2 separate regions of the Homo sapiens genome follow, and region 2 is linked to region 1. Evidence: fine-mapped expression QTL. A gene starts in region 1. The other region holds a variant in brackets. All regions are shown on one strand. Distances are between the middles of the regions.

Region 1 (11,786 bases):
TGAACTCCTGGCCTCAAGTGATCCTCCCACCTTGGCCTCCCAAAGTGCTGGGTTTACAGGTGTGAGCCACTGTGCCTAGTCTCAAACAGGTCCTTTTCTATGTGCTTTACATGTACAGTATTCATAGATTCAGTCCTCTCAACAGCCTAAGAGGGGGATAGTACTATTATTCTCATTTTATAAAGGAGGAAACAGAAGTAAAGTAACTGACTCAACGTCACGAGTTGGTAAAATTCCAGCACTGGAAGCCTGGCCCTAATTTGGTGCTTTTGCCACAGTCTCACCTACTGGACCATAAACACCTTGGGTGTAGATACCACAGCACTCACCTTTGTATCCTAAAATACCTGGTATACGGCCAGGCATGGTGGCTCATGCCTGTAATCCCAGCGCTTTGGGAGGCCAAGGTGGGCGGATCACGAGGTCAAGTTCGAGACCAGCCTGGCCAAGATAGTGAAACACTGTCTTTACTAAAAATACAAAAATTAGCTGAGCATGGTGGTGCGCACCTATAGTCCCAGCTACTCAGGAGGCTGAGGCAGGAGAATTGCTTGAACCCGGGAGGCAGAGGTTGTGATGAGCCTAGATCATCCCACTGCACTCCAGCCTGGACAACAGAGCGAGACTCCATCTCAAAAAAAAAAATAATAATAAATAAAATAAAATAAAATACCTGGTATACAAGGCACTCCTTACATGTATGTTGAGCTGAACTGATATCGTACATAATAGTGTAATTACACCTTCATTCATTCACTCAGTAAGACATTCTGAACACCTACCATGTTTCCTATCCTGTGCTAGGGACTGTGGAAGTCCAGGGAAATGCCCCTTGATCTCTAAGTGCTTGCAGTCAAGGAATACAAAATAATTTTCACTACTAAAGGGTACTGCATTACTAAATAAGACTAACTGCAAAACTTTACTGAGTACTGATTATTAGTTCACCAGAAAAAGCAGGAAACAAAAAGTTGAACTCAGTCCCTGTCTAGTGATCCACGATATTTACAGAAAAGATGAAAATATGTGGAGAGAACAAATGGAAAGTCTAAATTTCAGAAAGCATTTCAGAAATGGTAAACACTTCATGTGGAAAATTATTGAATGGAATGGAGCTTAAGAAATTCACACAGCAAAGTTTGCGGATTGGAAAGTATCCTTTTTTGGCTGGGCGCGGTGGCTCATGCCTGGAATCCCAGCACTTTGGGAGGCCAAGGCAGGCAGATCACCTGAGATCAGAGGTTCGAGACCAGCCTGGGCAACATGGTGAAACCCCATCTCTACTAAAAATACAAAAATTAGCTGGGCATGGTGGTGCATTCTTCTTTTTTTTTTTTTTTTTTTTTTTGAGATGGAGTCTTGCTCTGTCACCCAGGCTGGAGTGCAGTGGCGCGATCTCGGCTCACTGCAAGTTCCGCCTCCTGGGATCGAGCCATTCTCCTGCCTCAGCCTCCCGAGTAGCTGGGACTACAGGCGCCCGCCACCACGCACAGCTAATTTTTTGTATTTTTAGTAGAGACGAGGTTTCACTGTGTTAGCCAGGATGGTCTCGATCTCCTGACCTCGCGATCTGCCCGCCTCGGCCTCCCAAAGTGCTGGGATTACAGGCGTGAGCTACCGCGCCTGGCTGGTGGTGCATTCTTGTAATCCCAGCTACTCAGGAGGCTGAGTCAGGAGAATTGCTTGAACCCAGGAGGCGGAGGTTGCAGTGAGCCGAGATCGCGCCACTGCACTCCGGCCTGGGCAACAGAGTGAGATTCCATCTCAAAAAAAAAAAAAAAAGTATCCTTTTTTTTTTTTTTAAATGAAAGCAAGTTTATTAAGAAAGTAAAGGAATAAAAGAATGGGTACACCATAGGCAGAACACCCAAAAGTATCCTCTTTTATAAAAGAACAGACATGGAGAAGATATTTGAAAGTTTTCAAAAATACACCTTTTTGATCAATCTGTGTGCCTCCTCACATATAAAAGACAGGGATATAGAAAAACAGGTAGTTGGCCGGGCACGGTGGCTCACGCCTGTAATCCCAGCACTTGGGGAGGCCAAGGCAGGCGCATCACGAGGTCAGGAGATTGAGACCATCCTGGCTAACACGGTGAAACCCCGTCTCTACTAAAAATACAAAAAAATTAGCCAGGTGTGGTGGCAGGAGCCTGTAGTCCCAGCTACTCAGGAGACTGAGGCAGGAGAATGGCGTGAACCCGGGAGGCGGAGCTTGCAGTGAGCCAAGATCGCGCCACTGCACTCCAGCCTGGGCGACAGAACGAGACTCCGTCTCAAAAAAAAAGGAAAAGAAAAACAGATAGTTGCGCTGAACTGTTTATGTAAGTTAGATTCTACTGTGACAAGTGCATTATAACAAAGATCTATTGAAAAATCTTGGGGGAAGAAGGAATTACAAAACAGTAATGGATGTTTGTTATTTTATGGTAATGGTTATACAGGTATATGCCTGTGCCAAAACTCATCATATTGTAAACTTTAATATTTGCAGTTTATTATACAACAATTATACTCAATAAAGCATGGGAAAAACACGTTTCCTAGACTTGCTATTCAAAGTGTGGTCTGTAGACAGCAGCATCGGCATCACCAGAAAGCTTATGAGAAATGTATACTCTCAGGCCTCCCTCTATACCTACTGAGTCAGAATCTGCAGTTTAATAAGACATTCAGGTGAGCGTGTCTGGAACTCATCTCCCACAGTGAACTGTTAAAGCGAAGTTATATTCTCTAATTTTTTAATTTTATTTTTTAGAAACAGGGTCTCCTTCTGTCGCCCAGGCTGGAATGCAGTGACGCCATCATGGTTTACTGGAGCCTTGACCTCCCAGGCTCAAGTGATCCTTCCACCTCAGCCTCCCAAGTAGCTGGACCCTAGGCACATGCCACCATGCCCAGCTAATTTTTTATTTTTTGTAGAGACAGGGTCTTCCTATGCTGCCCAGGCTGTTCTCAAACTCCTGGGCTCGAACAATCCTCCTGCCTCAGCCTCCCAAAGTGCTGGGATTACAGGCATGACGCACTGTGCCAACCCCTAATGTTTTTAGTCATTAAGGGCAACCACCTACACAATGGCCCTTGATGTTTCGATTAGCAAGAGGTTCAGATGCTTGGTCTAGAGGATGTTTGGGTTTTCCAACCATATTCAATATGTTAAATTACAAAACAATAAAAAAGTCCATATAATTTTTTTTAATGTATGTCTTTTTTTGAGACAGTCTCTCTCCATCACCTAGGCTGGAGCGCAGTGGTGTGATCTTGGCTCACTGCAACATCCACCTCTCAGGTTCAAGCAATTCTCCTGCCTCAGCCTCCTGAGCAGCTGGGATTACAAGTGCCTACCACCACGCCCAGCTAATTTTTGTATAAAAAGTCCATGTAATTAATTAATTACCATATTTTACCTACCTTCCTAGGTATATTCTATAGGTTTTAATAATTATTGTATACTTTTTAAAAAAATAACTTTTTTTCTGATTACAAAAGAAATGCTTATCGTGAAAACTTGGAAAACAGAATCTAGCATTTCATGAAGAAGGGTTATATTTACCCTACTCATTATCATCCCAACAGTTATTGAATGTTAAAGGTAGAACACTGAGCAAAACACAGGGGAATATATATGTATATATAACATTTTGAAGGTTAGGCACATAATATGCATATTTTTAAGCTAATGAAGCTAAATATAAAGATCCAAGCTAAGTGGGAAGAACACAGACCTTAGAGCAGTAGAATTAGAGTTTTTAGTCCTCTACAACTAGAAGTGGGTTTACCATAAAGTTAATGAAGCTCAAGCTTCAGGGCCCCTTGCTTACACAGGCCCCTCCCAAGGCCCTTAGAGCGGCCTTAGCAGTATACACTTCTGTAACAGTTTTGAGAGTAAGATATTTAAGACCTCTGTCTTCGTTTCTAACTTCCCTTCGTCATCCTCCTCTGGTTAGGAGGTATTGAAATGGCTATAGGCTTTGTGGGGGATTTGGCTAAGGGGACAATGAATAGGGATACATTTAATTTGGGGTCAGTGGCATGCATTTAAGTGGTTTGCAGTCACTTCTGCATGTTTTTAAATTATTGCTCACCATGGGTGTAGGAATGGCTTTCTGGAATATACCTACTGCCCATTATGTCAATTCAGCCAGCACCATGTCACAAAAGTGCAAGGCCAAAGGGCGAAGGAACCCTATGTTGCCTGACACAGGAAGTACTTGGGTAGTGGAGGAGCAACAAGGTTTGAAAGAAAAGAAAGAGCTAGTAAAATTCTTCCATTCTTTTTCCTCTTCTGGGGATGTTGTCTATAGGCACATAGAATGGTCCAGCGTTTGACATACTGTTGTAGGCTTTCCTACAATACAGCTTCTAATAAAACTAGGCTGTCCTGAACCCCTGGTAATATAATTGCTTACCTTTATACCAAGAAGGCTGGGAAAGCACCAAAATCTACTGTGGTGTGTACCCACGCAGACTTCAAGGGGTTCGTGCTATAAGACCCGAAGTCTTATGAGATTGTCCAAAACACAAAAAACCATGTCAGCAGGGCCTATGGTGGTTCCATGTGTGCTATATGTGTTTGTGACAGGATCAAGCATGTTTTCCTTATCGAGGAAAAGAAAATCATTGTGAGAGTGTTGAAGGCACAAGCACAGGGTCAGAAAGCTAAATAAAAAATGAAGCTTCTTTGAGTAATTAAAATTAAAAGACTTAAAAATATGCTTCCAACCATCAGAAGTGGAAGATTATAAGGAGAGGGATCAATTCTCTCAATGCCTAATCAAAATGAAGGTTCTCACTCACTGAGAATCTAAGTCATATCTGCAATTATAACTGCACCATACTTCATGTTTTTATGTGAAGCATGCAAAAGGGAATAGATTAGAAACCCTATGTTTATGGGACAAAAACTTATAGTTGTACTACAGTGAGTCTGTCTGTATGTGAAGTTATATGTCTTATCCACCGTAATGAATGAGATCCTGTCTGAATGCAGCATACAAATCTTGTCCTGAAAAAAACCCTCGGCCAGGCGCGGTGGCTCACGCCTGTAATCCCAGCACTTTGGGAGGCCGAGGCGGGCATATCACAAGGTCAGGAGATTGAGACCATCCTGGCTAACACGGTGAAACCTCGTCTCTACTAAAAATACAAAAAAATTAGCCGGGCATGGTGGTGGGCACCTATAGTCCCAGCTACTCAGGAGGCTGAGGCAGGAGAATGGCGTGAACCCTGGAGGCGGAGCTTGCAGTGAGCCAAGATCGCGCCACTGCACTCCAGCGTGGGCGACAGAGAGAGACTCCGTCTCAAAAAAAAGAAAAAAACTCTCTAGGGCTTCAGTAAAAACCACACACAAAATTGTCACTGAAGCAGCCAAACGGCCATAAAAATCTCATAGCACATCCATGAAACTTGAGAGAGGTTTCCCAAACTGAACAATAACCCTAAAAAAGTACGTTAACAATATCAGTAATGAGTTGTGATGCTGAAATAAATTTATAAACAATTATTAAGAAACAAATTTAATCAGCCATGCTGGAGAAAAGACTGATCTTTCTCTTTTCTTTATAGAGAATTACAAAATACGCCGGGCGCGGTGGCTCTCACCTGTAATCCCAGCACTTTGGGGAGGCTGAGGCGGGCAGATCACATGAGGTCAGGAGTTTGAGACCAGCCTGGCCAACATGGGGAAACTCTGACTCTACTAAGTTTACAAAAATTAGCCGGGCGTGGTGGTGAGCACCTGTAATCCCAACTACTTGGGAGGCTGAGGCAGGAGAGTTGCTTGAACCCGGGAGGCAGAGGTTGCAGTGAACCGAATTGCACCACTACACTCCAGCCTGGGTGGCACAGCAGGACTGTCTGCAAAAAACAAAAAAAAAAAAAAAAAAAAAAAGTTACAAAATAATTGTTATAGGAAAAGGCAATCAGAAGTACGCAGCCAAAACAAAGGTGGGAAAAATGATCATAAATGGTGCTCCCAAAGTCTGGAAACACAGGTGAATATACATAATGTCGGGGGCGACTTCAATCTTTTAGAAAAAAATAGGTTTCTGGGCTCTCAGACGCCCTGTAGAAGAATATCAGGCAGTCAATGAAAATATTACGGTTATGTGTGTGATGTTTGTGGGTTTTATTAACTTTTAAAATATCATTTGTTTTTTCTTTCTCTTTCTAAATATACATTCACTTTCCTACCCTTCTGCGCGTAACTTTTTGTACTCTTTCCTAATGAGGGTCCCCACAAATTGTATGAGCTGCGCTTCCTGCAAAACCAGGATCAGCCCCGTCTGCAACCTCAAAGTCACTGAATTTCTCTGCAGTCTCAGTTTCCCCTTTTAAAAAAATTGGGAATTTGCCCTGCATTTCCTTAGAGTTGCTGTGAAGGCCAAACGAGATGGTGGTGGGCAAAAGAGCTCTGCCAACCACGCAGGCCCCTGCAAATGTGAAGGGCCTCTGACCTGGAGGGTTGGGTGCTGGCCGACCTCGTCAATCCTCCCTACTCCGACCCCCGCGCGGGGCTCCACTGACCCCGCCCCTGCTGGGCACTGACAGCCGCAGCACCGAACCGAGCGGTGGGGGTGGTAGCACCCGCCCACCTGGAGCAACTGGGATCCGAAAGGATGGGGTGCGGGGGAGGGGAGTTCGGGACCAACGGGAGTTGGGGAGCCTGAAGGGTGGTCGCTGAGCCAGGGCAACTGACGATTCCGGAGGGGGTGGGGCGCCAGGCCTCAGCCCCTCTCCCGGAGCCCTCCAGCCTCCTCAGCAGCGGAAGTTCCGGTGTCGGTAAGCGGAGGTCAGAGGTCAGCAGGAAGTCGATACGTGGCTGCCGTCTGTCCCCGCTGAGGAGGTGCAGCAGCCGGAGATGGCGGCGGTGCTGAACGCAGAGCGACTCGAGGTGTCCGTCGACGGCCTCACGCTCAGCCCGGACCCGGAGGAGCGGCCTGGGGCGGAGGGCGCCCCGCTGCTGCCGCCACCGCTGCCACCGCCCTCGCCACCTGGATCCGGTCGCGGCCCGGGCGCCTCAGGGGAGCAGCCCGAGCCCGGGGAGGCGGCGGCTGGGGGCGCGGCGGAGGAGGCGCGGCGGCTGGAGCAGCGCTGGGGTTTCGGCCTGGAGGAGTTGTACGGCCTGGCACTGCGCTTCTTCAAAGGTGAGCCGGGCCAGCCCCACCCCCGCCGCTTCTGCCCGGCCCCGGGAGCCCGGCGTGGGCTGTGGTCCCCAGGGTGACTGGACCAGACTTGCCCTCACCCACTCATACTGGGCTGTGGTGACTCAAGCGGGGTTCCCTCCTTGGGGGTACCCGAAGTTTGTCACTACCCGCTTGGCCACTAGGTCACACCCCTGACGGGCCTGCAACCTTGGTTTAGCAGTCATGTCCCGCCTCCCAGAGGTTACCGGGACATTTTACCTGATTTAGCTTCTGGGATTTCCAGGAGCCCTGGTGGAAGAATGAGCCCACTTTCTTCCAAAGGATCCCATTCTGGGATTGCCTTTTATTATTATTATTTTTTTAACTGACGCTTTTCTTTTCCTATTTCCCATGGCTTGTCACATCAGAACCCGCCGATTTTTACCCTTAGTGGAAGAAATCTGTCAAGAGGTTCCATACATAGCTTTTCCAGCCATTCTTGGGAACCATAAACTGGAACAGGACTTGATCCCCCGGCAGATTGATGTGGCAGAGAGGAGGAAGTAAAGTGTTAAGCTCATCATCCTCTCCGGCTTGTCAAACTCTTGAGGAGAGATGTCCACTATGTTCTAGTAACTTCTAGGTGGTTAAAATTTTACATTGTAAGCAATGTGCAAGAGTGAATTCTCAGAGTAAGGCCTAACAGTACCTTCTGTGCTTTTCGCATAATTAATTGTTAAATGTCTCTTGTCTTAGAGCAAGATTGTAGTGTGCGGTTTTTTTTTTTTTTAATTGGGTGATTCACTTAGTCGAATGGTGGAGAGACCAATCACATGATTTTTGTCAGTGGGAAAAACTGATGAAAGCCCGTTAGTTTGATTCTTAAAGATACTTAGTCTTGTAGGGCGAATGGACAGGGAGGGACATCAGCAAATGCAACTTTAAAAGTGGTTGCTAGGTTCCACGTACATTCCAGAGCAGCATATTTATGACACTTTCCCCAGAGGGAGTACCTTTTGGAGTACATATTTTACTAGCCAAAGTTGAGTAGTTCAATGTAATGATACACACGGAAGTTGTTTTCTCTCAAAATAACTTTAATTGTGCAAACTAGTGAAAGTTTTATAAATTTTCCAGAACATTTGATCATTTCACATTCAATGACATATTCGTGGTCATTGCACAATGAGTTGAGCCCTCTGTGTACTAACTAGCTTGGGGAATTGGTAATGGCTAATGGGTTTTGGATCATTTGACTTTTAGATCACCGGCTTGAATTTAGAGTTTGCTGTAGTGATGATATATTACCACTTGATAAAAATCAGGTGGTTTCTGTACAATTCATATAGCTACATTCCATCTTAAATTTTTATTCTTGGAACTTATTTTTCAGTAAAGTATATTGTAGCAGAGAGTAAGAGTAGAAATGAACTAATTCCTTTTTTTTTTTTTTTTTGAGCTGGAGTCCTGCTCTGTTGCAGGACTGAGGGAGGCTGAGGCAGGAGAATCACTTGAACCCGGGAGGCGGAGGTTGCAGTGAGCCAAGATGGCACCATTGTACTCCAGCCTGGGCGACGAGCAAAACTCCGTCTAAAAAAAAAAAAAGAATCGCTTCAATATGGGAGGCAGAGGTTGCAGTGAGCCGAGATCATGCCACTGCACTCCATCCTGGGCGACAAAGTGAAATTCTGTCTCAAAACAAAGAAAAAGATTAAAACACTGTAACGTGTAGTATACTTAACATTGTTTGGAGAGTCAGGAAGCTCTGGATTCTAGTTACCTTGTAAACTAGACAATTAACTTTTCCAGAATCAGTTTCATATGTATAAAGGGAGCTGGATTCTATAAAATATGATGTCTCAGATTTAAGATTCAGTGGTCTTAACCTAACAGATTATTTTAACATGTGTCTTGAGTGGTAGGAATCCTGGGGAAACTTATAACTTGGGGCCTAGGTGTTAGTCACCTTAGAGAATAAAGCTACACTGATAGGTGTGGTTCACTCACTTCCTAAATGAAGTTCTCAAAGCAATATCCAGGTACTAAAAAGGAGAAATAGCTGTGTAGCAATTAAAAGCTACCTTTCTGCATGTGTCATTGGAGACTGTTAGTATATGAGACACTAACTGACAAAAGGGAAGGATGTAAAAGCAGTCAGAAGAATTATGGAATGTGGAGTGAGCCAAGTAATGCTGCCTTTGTTTTGTTTTTTGTTTTTGAGATAGAGTCTCACTCTGTCGCCCAGGCTGGAGTGCAGTGGTGCCATCTCGGGGCTCACTGCAAGCTCCACCTCCCGGATTCACTCCATTCTCCTGCCTCAGCCTCCCGAGTAGCTGGGACTACAGGTGCCCACCACCACGCCCGGCTAATTTTTTGTATTTTTCGTAGAGACGAGGTTTCACCGTGTTAGCCAGGATGGTCTCGATTTCCTGACCTCGTGATCCTCCTGCGTCAGCCTCCCAAAGTGCTGGGATTACAGGTGTGAGCCACTGTGCCCAGCCTGGTTTTTTTTTTTTTTTTTTTTTTTAGGCAGAGTTTGATTCTTGTTGCTCAGGCTAGAGTGCAATGGCGCGATCTCAGCTCACTGCAACCTCTGCCTCGAGGGTTCAAGTGATTCTCCTGCCTCTGCCTCCCGAGTAGCTGAGATTACAGGCATGTGCCACCACGCCCAGGTACTTTTGTATTTCTAGTAGAGACGGGGTTTCTCCATGCTGGTCTCGAACTGCCGACCTCAGGTGATCTGCCCACCTTGGCCTCCCAAAGTGTTGGGATTATAGGCGTGAGCCACCGTGCCCGGCACCTTTGTTTTAATGTGTGGATTTTTCTGGTGGAACACATGGTGTTTTGTCAGTCTTGCTGGGACTTTTAATCGCTATTCTATGGTTTTATACCAGTATCTCACGAGAATTAGAAATAACATTACATTTTCGGCCGGGTGTGGTAGCTTTTGCCTGTAATCCCAGCACTTTGGGAGGCCGAGGCGGGTGGATCACAAGGTCAGGAGATCGAGACCACCCTGGCTAACACGGTGAAACCTCATCTGTACTAAAAATAAAAAAATAAAAAAATTAGCTGGGCGTGGTGGCAGGCGCCTATAGTCCCAGCTACTTGGGAGGCTGAGGCAGGAGAATCACTTGAACCCTCAAGGCGGAGCTTGCAGTGAGCCAAGATTTCGTCCCTGCCCTCCAGCCTGGGCAACAGAGCAAGACTCCATCTCAAAAAAATAAATAAATAAAGGAAAGAACATTACATTTTCTCTTCCACTGTGGAATAAATACGAATCTTGAAAGCATGGATATATTTTTCCATTGCAAATAGCTTGGGTTGGAAATGACAAGCCCTATTTCTTATTCCATCCTTGTCAGGGTGGTAATAGGCCAGTGACTGAATCAATTACGTCAACTATTCTTAATTTTTTATGACAGTAAAAGTAAAATAGATGAAGATGTGGGTAAATGTAAGTTAGCATTTTACCATCTAAATTTCAGACATTATTGACTTTTCAGTATGGATAGTTTTATATTAGGTTACAACTATAAATGAATAGTACGTTATCTTTTGCTTAGAGTCCAAAAGAGGAGTTAAGGACCCAGTGACAACTGCAGTACAGTGTGGAGGACTGAGGGAGCAGATGCCATTCCAGAGGGGGGAAGGCCAAGAGCCATGAAAGCCATGAGAAGTCAAAGCATGTCTGTTTGCAAAATGGAAAATAGAAAGCAGTTTGATGGAGAGAGCTGGGAAGGTAACTGAGTTCAATTCTTGGAAGGACTTGCATGCCATTGTCATTTTTTTTTTCTGAGACGGAGTCTTGCTATGTCACCCAGGCTGGAATGCAGTGGCATGATCTCCACTCCCTGCAACCTCTGCCTCCTGGGTTCATGTGATTCTCCTGCCTCAGCCTCGTGAGTAGCTGAGCTTACAGGCTTGTGCCACCACACCCAGCTAATTTTTGTATTATTAATAGAGATGGGGTTTCACCATGTTGGCCAGTCTGGTCTTGGACTGACCCCAAATGATCTCCCCGCCTCGGCCTTCCAAAGCGCTGGGATTACAGGCGTGAACCACCGCGCCTGGCCATGTAAGTATTAATAGTTCGGCCTTTTTGTCAGTAAATTAGAAGATGAGGAACCACTGGAGGTTTTTAAAGGGAGGAGCAAAGTTGCTCAATTCTTTTTTTTTTTTTAGACAGTCTGGTTTTGTTATGCAGGCTAGAGGGCAGTAGTGCGATCTTGGCTCACTGCCCCCTATGCCTCCCAGGCTCAAGCCATCCTCCCACCTCATCCTCCTGTGTGACTGGGACCACAGGCACGAGCCACCATGCCCGGCTAATTTTTGTATTTTTTGTAGAGACAGAGGTCTTGCTTTGTTGCCCAGCTGGTCTTTAGCTCCTGAGCTCAAGCGATTCACCCGCCTTGGCCTCTCAAAGTGCTGGGATTACAGGCATGAGCTACCACGCCCGGCCAGAGTTGCCCAGTTCTATTTTAACAATGTTAAGCTAGGTTTTCTTATCTCCATGGGTTAAGGACCCACAGGAATCCAGTGGGTTCATTTTATTATGACCTTTATACTTCTTGGATGGAGTTGACCTGGGGAATTGTATTTTGGTTTTTAGAGTTCTTTGGGGTGGACTTTTCCTTCTCTAATACTTTATTACTGTATT
Region 2 (11,786 bases), 23 kb after region 1:
TAATCAGAAAAGTTGTCTTCAGGTGAATAGTTTCCATGTGATTTTATCTTTACTGACATTTATTTAGATAAAACTACTTAATTGAGTTTATTCTTAAAAAAAGAAAGGCCGAGCACGGTGGCTCACGTCTGTAATCTCAGCACTTTGGGAGGCCCAGGTGGGCAGATCACGAGGTCAGGAGATCGAGATCATCCTGGGTAACATGGTGAAACCCCGTCTCTACTAAAAAAAAAAAAAAAAAAAAAATTCAAAAAATTAGCTGGGCGTGGTGGCGGGCGCCTGCAGTCCCAGCTACTCGGGAGGCTGAGGCAGGAGAATGGCGTGAACCCAGGAGGCAGAGCTTGCAGTGAACCGAGATCATGCCACTGCACTCCAGCCTGGGTGACAGAGTGAGACTCCGTCTCAAAAAAAAAAACCAAAAAAAAAAAGGAAAGGAAAAATGCACTCTCAGTCTCAGGCCCACCACATCTTTTTTTCTTGAATCATTGGCAGCATATGTTCTTTTATAGGCTCAAGATAAAATGACACAGGTTAATGTCTTTTTTTTTTTTTTTTTTTTGAGATGGAATCTCGCTCTGTTTCTTAGGCTGGAGTGCAGTGGTATGATTTAGGCTCGCTGCAACCTCCATCTCGTTCAAGCGATTCTCCTGCCTCAGCTCCCTGAGTAGCTGGGATTACAGATGTGCTGTACCACCACACCCAGCTAGTTTTTGTATTTTTAGTAGAGAGAGGGTTTTGCCATGTTGGCCAGACTGATCTCGAACTCTTGACCTCAGGTGATCCATCTGCCTTGGCCTCCCAAAGTGCTGGGATTACAGGTGTGAGCCACTGTGCCCGGCTGCTTAATGCCCTTTTTTTTTTTTGTTTTAAAAAACAAAAACTCGGCTCACGCCTGTAATGCTAGCACTTTGGGAGGCCGAGGCAGGCCGATCACGAGGTCAGGAGATCGAGACCATCCTGGCTAAAGCAGTGAAACCCCATCTCTACTAAAAATCCCAAAAAAAAAAAAAAAAAAAAAAAATAGCCAGGCAGTCCAGGCGCGGTGGCTCATGCCTGTAATCCCAGCACTTTGGGAGGCCGAGGCGGGCAGATCACGAGGTCAGGAGATCGAGACCATCCTGGCTAACACAGTGAAACCCCGTCTCTACTAAAAATACAAAAAAAATTAGCCGAGCATGGTGGCGGGCGCTTGTAGTCCCAGCTACTCGGGAGGCTGAGGCAGGAGAATGGCGTGAACCCGGGAGGCAGAGCTTGCAGTGAGCCGAGATCGCACCACGGCACTCCAGCCTGGGTGACAGAGCGAGACTCTGTCTCGAGAAAAAAAATAAAAATAAAAAAAAACTCTCTAAATCACAAGGCTAAGATCAGGAGCTGGAGCTATTTTTCAAATTATCGCCATTTGTTAAAAGCGAGAAGGGGGTGGGCACAGTGGCTCACGCCTGTAATCTCAATACTTTGGGAGGCTGAGATGGGTGGATCACCTGAGGTCAGAAGTTGGAGACCAGCCTGGCTAACATGGTGAAACCCCATCTCTGCTAAAAATATAAAAACTAGCCGGGTATGGTGGCGCACACCTGTAGTCCTAGCTACTTGGGAGGCTGAGGCAGGAGAATCACTTGAACCCAAGAGACGGAAGCTGCAGTGAGTCGAGATTGTGCCACTCACTGCACTCCAGCCTGGGCAACAGAGCGAGACTCCGTCTCAAATAAAAAGTGAGAAGGAAGTTGTTCTGGGCTGTGTTTCTCTAATAATTACCTGTGACGTAGTGTAAGAAAACTTTTGGTGATTAATATCCTTATCAAGTATTTGATGATTAATGTCATCAAGTATTATGTGTTGTATGTGCTATATATACTTTTATACAGCTGGCAGCACAGTAGGTTAGTTTAACGCCAGCATCATCGTAAATACTTGAGTTATATGTTGCATCATGTTATGGTGGCTACCACACCACTAGGCCATAGGAAAATTTCAGCTCCATTATAATAATCTTATGGGACTACACTCATATAAACAATCTGTCCTTTACTGAAATGCCATTATGCAGAGCATGACTGTACCATGTTGTTTCGACTTTCCCTTATTGATAACCTTTTAAGTTATTTCCAGTAACAAGAAAATAGTGCTGCAATGAATGTCCTTGTATCTGCCTCCTTTTATATATTTGAGAGTGCTTGTCAAGCATATGTAATGAGAACTGGAATGACTGGATCATAGGGCATACACATTTATAGTTTTGAAATACAGGAGTCTCTCCTTGTCCATGGTTTTGCTTTCCCTTCTTTCAGATACCCGGGGTTAATCAAGGTCTGAAAATAGGTGAGTAGAATACATTCAGATATTTTGAGAGAGACAGAGATCCCACATTCACATAACTTGTTGTTGTATATTGTTATATAATTACAATATACAAATATAATACAGTATTTTATTGTTAATCTCTTATTGTATCTAATTTATAAATTACAGGTATGTACATTTAGGAAAAACATAATATATGTAGGGTTCAATATTATCTGCAGTCTTAAACATCCACTGGGGGATAAGATAAGGACTATTGTGTATTGCCAAATTGACCTTCAAGGTAACTATAACAGTTTATACTTTCAGCATTCATATATGAGAATGGGTACCTGTTTGTAGGATCTTAATAACTTTAGATGTTATCTAACTTTTTTGTTTATCTGATGGGAGGTGGGGGTCTTGGTATCTAATGCTTTTAATTTATATTTCTTGACTAGTGGGGTTGAATATCTTTTTGGATGTTTATTGGCAGCTTCTATATTTTTTCTTCTCTGAGTTTCCTGCTGTTCTTTAACCCATATTCTTCTCACTTATTAGTGATTTTATTTCACCACTATATACATGAATGAGACATATAAGTAGCATATGCTACTTTCAAGTGCCCTCCCCGTTTTCTTTAAATTTGGTAGTCTGTTGTCATTGGAATCAACCAGTAGTTAGTGCTACCATTTATCAAAGAAGTGGAACTGTTCTCTGAATATTTCCCATTTTACCAGAACCCAATTTCATACGGCTTTTAAATGTTGGTAGCAGTTAGTCTTTATTGGTCAAACTGGTCGCACTCTTAATTGCCTATATGGAAACCTACCAGAGCCAATCAGGTGAAGGAAAGAAAAGCATTAATAAGTTAGTAATAATAATAATCCTATTACCTCTGAAGTAGCAACCTCTGAAGGGTAACCCTTTCTTTATTGATGAATAAACTGAGAGGTTAAATAGTCACATAGCTAGGAAGTGTCTCAGCTGAGATTTAAACCCAGGCCATCCAATTCCAAAGCCTTTTCCACCACATTATACTACCTTAGTGGGATGGATACATTTTTGAATACAGCCTTTCAAAGTGTACATAATCTTCTATGCATGATCATGTTAAAAGGGACTAATGTAAAATTATTTTAAGTTTTTCTTTTCTCTTTTGGCTAAAAATTATTTTTAAAAGCTATTTTAAAAACCGATTGTTGGGCTGGGCATGGTGGCTCACACCTGTAATCCCAGCACTTTGGGAGGCTGAGGCAGGAGGATTGCTTGAACCCAGGGTTCAAGACCAGTCTGGGCAACATTGTAAGACATCGTCTCTGCAAAAAGTAAAAAATTAACCAGATGTGGTGGCACATGCCTGTAGTCCCAGCTTCTCGGGAGGCTGAGGCAGAAGGATTGCTTAAGCCTGGGAGGTCAAGGCTGTAGCCTGACTGCAGCTTGACAGATGGGTTTTTCTGTAGTAGCTTTAGCATAAGTATTGATAGTTGGCTTATTTTTACAACCTAATTCAGGGTAGGCATGGTGGTCCACACTTGTAATGCCAGCACTTTGGGATACTGAGACGGGAGAATCACTTGAGCTCAGGAGTCCGAGACCAGCCTGGGCAACATAGTGAGACCTTGTCTCTACAAAAATAAAAACATTTTCCACGTATGATGGCGCATACTCCTGTAGTCCCAGGTAGTTGGGTGACTGAGGTGGGAGGATCACTTAAGCTCAGCAGGTTGAGGCTGCAGTGAGCTGTGATTGTGCCACTGCATTCCAGCCTGGGCAATAGAGCGAGACCTTGTCTCAAAAAAAAAAAAAAAAAAATCAGCATACCGGATTTCCGTCTTAGGTTCTGTTATTAATAAAATGTAGTAATTGGGCTGGGCATGCTGGCTCAAATCCCAGCAGTTTTGAAAAGGAGGCCAAGACGAGAGGCTTGCTTGAGCCCAAAAGTTCGAGACCAGCCTGGGCAGCCCTGTCTCTGCCAAAAGACAGGTTTGGTGGCACGCACGTGTAGTCCAGCTACTTGGGGGGCTGAGGTGGGAGGGTCATTTGAGTCCCGGAGGTCAAGGCTTCAGTGAGCCTTCATCACACCATTGCACTCCAGCCTGGGCAACAGAGTGAGACTCTGTCTAAAAATAAAAAAATTTTTTAAAAGTAGTAATTGAAATAAAAATTTCACTATTAGTGTTTGTGTCTATTACAGGCAGTTTGTGACATGCTTTGTAGCAAAGCTTTAGTATATAATGCTGAAAATTATGTATTTTGCCTGTGCTAATTGTTTTCTTTGTGTTTCTTTTTCTTATAGAAAAAGATGGCAAAGCATTTCATCCAACTTATGAAGAAAAATTGAAGCTTGTGGCACTGCATAAGCAAGTTCTTATGGGCCCATATAATCCAGACACTTGTCCTGAGGTTGGATTCTTTGATGTGTTGGGGAATGACAGGAGGTAACAGTGTTTTTCTGTATAGTGAATTTAATGAGGATAATGTTGGCAAAGGGTACAATGTGTATTGGTTAAGGTGTAAGTAGCTGGTTCATTAGCTTAGGATAAGAACTGAACATTTTTGCTTGCAGCTTCTGGAGTCTTCAGATATTTATCTGTTTTTAGCTTAGAGATGTTTATGGTTAAATATTGTGGAAGAACTGTATTCATCTGCTTATGAACATAAGACAAGTAGAGCTTCATTTGATTCTTCCCAAATAATATTAAAAGTAGCCATTTAAAATATATAGTAATTGATTCCCTTATTGAGGCATAAAAAAAATTGTGACAAAAAAAGAATACATTGAGTATTTTTGTTTAATTAAGGCTCAAATATTATATAAGAAAAATAGGCCAGGTGCGGCAGTTCATGCCTGTAATCCCGGCACTTTGGGAGGCCGAGGTGGGTAGATCATTTGAGGTCAGGAGTTCAAGACCAGCCTGGCCAACATAGTAAAACCCCATCTCTACTAAAAATTAAAAAATTAGCCGGCGGTAGTGGCACATGCCTGTAATCCTACCTACTCGGGAGGCTGAAGCAGGAGAATCGCTTGAGCCTGGGAGGCAGAGGTTCTGCTGAGCCAAGATCGCACCAGTGCACTCCAGTCTGGGCAACAGAGTGAGATCCTATCTCAAAAAAAAAAAGAAAAAAGAAAAATTGATACTCTTTTGCTATATGGGAATCATCAGCAATGCAGTTGTTTGGATTGTATGTGGCGTATCTAATTTAGTAAATCAATACATACTTGTTAAAACTTGAAGTTTTGAGCCTTTTGCTCCCAATAGAATCATTCATTTTACTTACAATTGAGAATTATTCATATTTAGGTTTAAATTTAAAAGTTCTCATTCTACTAAGAAGGGGAGGTAACTTTTCTTGTTATTCCTTACAGGAGAGAATGGGCAGCCCTGGGAAACATGTCTAAAGAGGATGCCATGGTGGAGTTTGTCAAGCTCTTAAATAGGTGTTGCCATCTCTTTTCAACATATGTTGCGTCCCACAAAATAGAGAAGGAAGAGCAAGA[A/C]AAAAAAAGGTGAAGTTTGAGGGCATGGAATACTTTATTGCTGCGCAGCCCAGTGTACTGATGCTTTTGTTTTGTAGAGTGTCTGTTCTAGTTCTAGATCAGGTGTCTTGCTTTCCTTGGATCCCCATTTCTTGTGGCAATTGTTCAAACTTCCTGATGTGAACAGGTACTTGTATTATAAGTTTTGGGGGGAGGGAGGACTGCTTCCTACTGGCCGTGCCTTTAAAAGGAACCTCCCATCCATCATGGCAGCCTTCCTTTTGTTTTATTACACTAAGTTTCTGAATAAGCCCCACCATAAACTCAACCACTCCCTCCTCCCTATCCTCTGGTCTGACATACCCTTTGTTGCAGTCTCCCTCGAGCTTCTAGAATCCTCATGCTCCATTTCATGGTTTGCAACTATGCTACCTTATATAGACATTCATGTTGGCTTTGGCTTCCAGCTGGCTTATTGATTATTTTCAAGTTTTGGAGGAGGAGCTACTGAATGTGCTGTTTATGCTTATGGGATTCTCTGTTGTAGTTGTGAATTAGAATTATAGTTACACCTTATTTTTCTAGTGGCTATATTTTCATCAATTTTGACTATCTAAAATTTTAGGTGATGAAAATGATGCTACAAAACCAATTTTTCTTCAGGTTATGTTATACTTTTTTTTTTTTTTTTTTTTTTTTTTTAAGATGGAGTCTTGCTCTGTTGCTATTGCTCAGGCCGGAGTGCAGTGACACAATCCTCTGCCTCCTGGGTTCAAGCAGTTCTCCTGCCTCAGCCTCCCGAGTAGCTGGGAGAGGGATTACAGGTGCCTGCCACCAACCCAGCTAATTTTTGTGTTTTTAGTAGAGATGAGGTTTTACTATGTTGGCCAGGCTGGTCTCAAACTCCTGACCTCAGGTGATCCACCCGCCTGGTCCTCCCAAAGTGCTGGGATTACAGGCATGAGCCACCTTGCCCAGCCGATGTTATTCTTTAAAAACAATTGATTCTCTGGTTTCCTACCTTAACCTGGATTAGAAATAACAGATTAGAAGAGAAAATAGCTTGATAATTAGGGACATAATAGAAAGCATGAAAAATAGACACGAGAATTATAAAAGCATGGCAGTCAGGGGTCATTTAATATGAAGGTAAACTTCTCCATTACAATAGTATGATGTACAATTTTTATGTTTACAGCTGTAACCCCTGAGTTATCAAGAGATGGAACATTAGATATGATTTATTCCTATTTAAGATAATAGGAAATTGCTTGATTACATTTTCAGAAGATATTTATCCAAAGAAATTTTTTTTTTTAATCTAAAGGAAAGGTTTTGATTCTTATGAGAAAAGAATGAGATTTCTTTAACTGGAAAATTGATTTATGTCCTACAGTCCATTGTGTAGTGATGTTGGATCAATCAGGTATCGCTAGGGTGTCTGTAGAAGTATCTATATATTGCTTTTTAAGTTCTTATTTTAATGATATATATGCATATTTCTCTTAAGCATTGTCAAAAGTTACTACTCAACATATAGAGCTGCGTTTTCGTTTTAAAAATATACTTTTGTCATGGGATAAAGTCCACATAGAATTATTTTAAAGTGTTTAAGAGTAGACTTCATCTATCCTGAAGCTTAAGCTCTGGCTTGTGAACCTTCTTGCTCTGTACCAGCTGTGACACATTAAAAGTAGGTCATGGCCGGGTGCAGTGGCTCACGCCTGTGGTGGCTCACATCTGTAATCTCAGCACTTGGGGAGAACGAGGCGGGCAGATCACTTGAGTCCAAGAGTTCAGGACCAGCCTGGGCAACGTGGCAAAACCCCATCTCTACAAAAAAAAAATACAAAAATTAGCCGGATGTGGTTACAGGTCCCTGTAATTCCAGCTACTCAGGAGGCTAAGGTGGGAGGATCATTTGAGCCTGGGAGGCGGAGGTTGCAGTGAGCCAAGAATGTGCCACTGCACTCCAGTCTGGGTGACAGAGTGAGACCCTGTCTCAAAAAAAAAAAAAAAATAGGTCATGTTATTACAATATTTTGAGACTTGGCTGTGGCTCAGGTAGTTGTTAATCACTTATAGGAGTTAGAGGGGAGAAAGGTGAGGTAGCCCAGACAATTCTCGTGGTAGGTTTATGAAATAGTGTCTTATCTGATACTCCTTAGAAATCTTCCCTTTCATCCTGTCTGCAGGCTCCCTGAACACCATACCACTCTCAGACCCGGAAGATGTCCATTCCTAGCACAATAGGATCTGTTCTTTTTGGAAGGGTCTTGTGGGGTGGGTGAAAGCTGGGCAAGGGCTGCCCTGAGAGGTTAACCGTTCTTTTTTAAATTAAAAGCTTTACAAAAAATTTTAATTTCAGAAATAATACACAAATATATGCAATATAAAATTTTCATTTATGGCAGTATATGAAACACAAACTGAAAAAAATCTTTTTTCCCACATTTCTTTTAATTCCACTCTCCTCTGCATAGATAATAACTGATAAATTTAGGGTATGTCCTTCCAGATCTTTTCCTTTGTATTCACCTTTTTTTTTTTCATTAAGCAAGTGTATTACATGTCTTTACATATTAGGCAATGTATTTCTATCCTTTGGCTCTGCGATATTTCAGGGTGGATTTTTTACTTCTGTACACGTTTGTCGAGTGCTTGTTCTTTCCAGCACTGTGCTAAGCCCTGAGGATGTCGTGGTGTGAGATAGGCAGTCTCTTCCCCTATGGAGCATCTAGTTTAATGGGTAATGCAGATCTATTGCTGAATGTATCACACAAATTTAATTATAATGACAGCAGGTATTATGAAGGAAAAGCTTTTAGTGCTGTGAGCATATATTAGAGGGGATCCTTCAGGGTATAGGAATATCATAATGACTTAAGTAGTTTCTTATGATGGACACATTTCTGTTGCTGTGCAACAATAATTATTCTTGATGTGATTTGTATATTGTGCGATTGATTCCCTATAAGTTTCTGCTAGTAAAGTGTATGTATTTTAAATTTTGATGTATATATCCACATTGTTCTCTAAAAAGGTCATGTCAGTTTTCCCTGGGAGCTAAAGTTTTATTTTTAAACAGGATTCAACGTATAGGGTTCATTCTCTATCTTTGCCTTGTAGGAAGGAGGAAGAGGAGCGAAGGCGGCGTGAAGAGGAAGAAAGAGAACGTCTGCAAAAGGAGGAAGAGAAACGTAGGAGAGAAGAAGAGGAAAGGCTTCGACGGGAGGAAGAGGAAAGGAGACGGATAGAAGAAGAAAGGCTTCGGTTGGAGCAGCAAAAGTAAGTTTATTATGTGGCTTATGTTTTAAAATGAGAAATGGAAAAAAAATAGAATAAAAATAAGAAATGAGCGGGCCAGGTGTGGTGGTTCACGCCTGTAATCCCAGCACTTTGGGAGGCGGAGGCGGGCAGATCACCTGAGGTTGGGAGATCACCTGAGGTTGGGAGATGGAGACTATCCTGGCTAACACAGTGAAACCCTGTTTCTATTAAAAATACAAAAAATTAGCTGGGCGCAGTGGCATATGCCTGTAATCCCACCTACTCAGGAGGCTGAGGCAGGAGAATCTCTTGAACCCAGGAGGTGGAGGTTGCAGTGAGCCGAGATCGCGCCATTGCACTCCAGCCTGGGTAATGAGTGAAACTCCGTCTCAAAAAAAAAAAGGAATGTATTAGAAGGTTTGGGGGTTCACTTGCAGAACCCAGAGATTGGAAGCAGGAGCTGAGGTTGCTTGGTTGCGCTCTCTGTTTCTTGTCTCTGCTTCTCTCAGCTTATGTCTCTGCTTCATCCTTGCTCTCTGCAAATTGTCAACTGTCTGCTTTGGCATATGCAAGGCTGTCCGAGGATTTATTTGGTCTATGTTTCCATGCATCTGACAGAGACTGGCTGGAATCTGTGAGACCCAGTTGCAGTTTCCCAGGACAGAGAATCTTGTTGGTCCAGTCTATGTCAGATATCCATTTATAGTCCTTAGTACAAGATTTGGAGGCTTCAACTATTGCTTACTCAGTAAGGGCTTTGAGACTCAGAGACTGACAGGTTCTTCAAGAGGGAGCTGTGGGTACAAGGAGGCAGTGATTAACACCCATAAAACACTGGGAAGTAAGTCTGAGTTTGTAGGGGTGGCATGGCTTGTAGGTTAAACCAGAGAACATGAGAGTCCATTGATTTCTTCTCATTATTTCTGGGTAGTTCCTCAGAAAAAGGTTTAGTGCTAGCCTCAAACTAATCCAGGCCCTCATTCAACTTTGGAGAAAGACTATGAATGCAGCTCTTTTTTGGGGGAGGTTGTCCTAGGTGGATCGAATGTTGTGCTGTATGTAGGAGTTTGTGAGGCTTTGCTTTGTTATCTATTAATAGATGGCTTTGAGGTCTCTGTTAAGTTGGTCACATAAGTAAGTTAAGAAGCATGTGGTTGCTGGCTGTGGTGGCTCATGCCTGTAATCCCAGCACTTTGGGAGGCCGAGGCGGGCGGATCACTTGATTGAGGTCAGGGGTTTGAAACGAGCCTGGCCAACATGGTGAAACCGTCTTTACTAAAAATATAAAGATTAGCCAGGCGTGGTAGCAGGTGCCTGTAATCCCAGCTACTTGGGAGGCTGAGGCAGGAGAATCGCTTGAACCTAGGAAGTGGAGGTTGCAGTGAGCTGAGATCACGCCACTGCACTCCAGCATGGGTGACAGAGTGAAACTCCGTCTCAAAAAAAAAAAAAAGAAGAAGCATGTGGTTTATCTATAAAAGAATATGAGTATCTCTAAACTAAGCATGCCAAGATATTTTCAGTATTTCCTCTATTAAGACAGGCTTTAAATTAAATGCTGTGGACCCTTAATTTTTCACTGGCTTTATTTATACTTACCAGGGCCACCTGTAACATCTTCCAGCTATTCTTCTGCCTCTTACTGTTTTTTATGTATTTAGGTACAGAAGCCATAGCCAACAGTTAAATACCTCATCTATGTCAGAGATGACAATCCATCATCTTAAAGCATCGTGGTAAATTAGTGTAGCTCTAGAGCCAAACTGCCTGGATTTGCATCAGGCTGTAGCATCTGCTAGCAGTATAGTCTTGGGCAAGTTACTGAACCCTCTGTCAGAGGGTTGTTGTGAGGACTAAATGGGTTAGTATGTGTGAGTACTTTCAACACTGCATGGCACATAGTAAGGGCACAATAAATGTTAATAATTATGATGGTGGTCATGATGATGATGATCATATGCTTATCTTCCATCCCGAATTTTCCTGGAAAATCCTAAGTAAAAAATTAGAGGCCAGGCTTATTTTCTTAAATCTTTCTTCTGGACCCAGAACACATACTAATTGGTGTACATTACTAGCTTAGTTGTTTTTAAGAGTTACAGACTGTAAAAGTAAGTAATAAGGACATTTTATTTTGTCATGAACAATCTCCTGTAGCCAGACTAGTATATATATTTTTAATGTTTTTAGGCAGCAGATAATGGCAGCTTTAAACTCCCAGACTGCCGTGCAGTTCCAGCAGTATGCAGCCCAACAGTATCCAGGGAACTACGAACAGCAGCAAATTCTCATCCGCCAGTTGCAGGAGCAACACTATCAGCAGTACATGCAGCAGTTGTATCAAGTCCAGCTTGCACAGCAACAGGTACGATAGACAACCCTAGAATTCAGCCTTAGAGAGAGTTTTTAGTTTCATTGGAACCCAAGTTCTTTTTTAACAGTCGCAAATGAATTTTGCATTAGTTAGCCTCTAAGGTGTAAAGTAACTTTTGGGTGATCTTTTAGGCAGACTTGAGAATTGCACAGGCAATTGTGAGAGAAAATATGTGTTATCGAAGCAACCGATGATGTTATATTGTCATAAGGGTATTTGGGAGTTGTATGGGTTGAGTGTCTTTACTGTGAGTCTGGCATAGACCCTAATAGTGGTCCTGGAACATGAGGACCTGAGTAACTAGCCATAGTTCAGAGATGTCCTTCAGGCAGTGCATTGTCAGAGGCTTGGACAGCCTCCAGTGGGAGGACTCCCCTGCCC

Alleles and levels. Alleles are on the strand shown, and positions count from the first base shown. SD is a standard deviation of normalised expression in the study named.
For the expression in prefrontal cortex of the gene that starts at base 6,796 in region 1, allele C in region 2 goes with a lower level than allele A (moderate effect, 0.44 SD a copy in ROSMAP).

Evidence for each region. PIP is the estimated chance that this variant, and not a neighbour inherited with it, causes the effect. A credible set is the group of variants that fine-mapping cannot tell apart.
Region 2: its variant is the best candidate, but not a certain one, in a credible set for the expression of ACBD3 in prefrontal cortex (ROSMAP, PIP 0.52).

The regions. Positions count from the first base shown.
Region 1 is chr1:226,181,751-226,193,536 of GRCh38, reverse strand. It overlaps ACBD3 (acyl-CoA binding domain containing 3), which reads left to right and starts at 6,796. Exons shown (of 8, transcript NM_022735.4): 1 at 6,796-7,147. The coding sequence starts at 6,862. LOC101927247 (a long non-coding RNA gene) reads right to left here and starts at 5,641. Exons shown (of 2, transcript XR_001738504.2): 1 at 5,604-5,641. It also overlaps the pseudogene RPL34P7. RefSeq lists silencers at 6,895-7,189, 6,826-7,305 and enhancers at 10,611-11,111, 11,112-11,612.
Region 2 is chr1:226,158,794-226,170,579 of GRCh38, reverse strand. It overlaps ACBD3 (acyl-CoA binding domain containing 3), which reads left to right. Exons shown (of 8, transcript NM_022735.4): 2 at 4,580-4,721; 3 at 5,651-5,791; 4 at 8,891-9,049; 5 at 11,222-11,396. Among named protein-coding and RNA genes, the nearest start is that of ACBD3-AS1, 17 kb to the right of the region's middle. RefSeq lists an enhancer at 6,558-6,727. The variant A/C (reference allele first, on the strand shown) is at 5,783.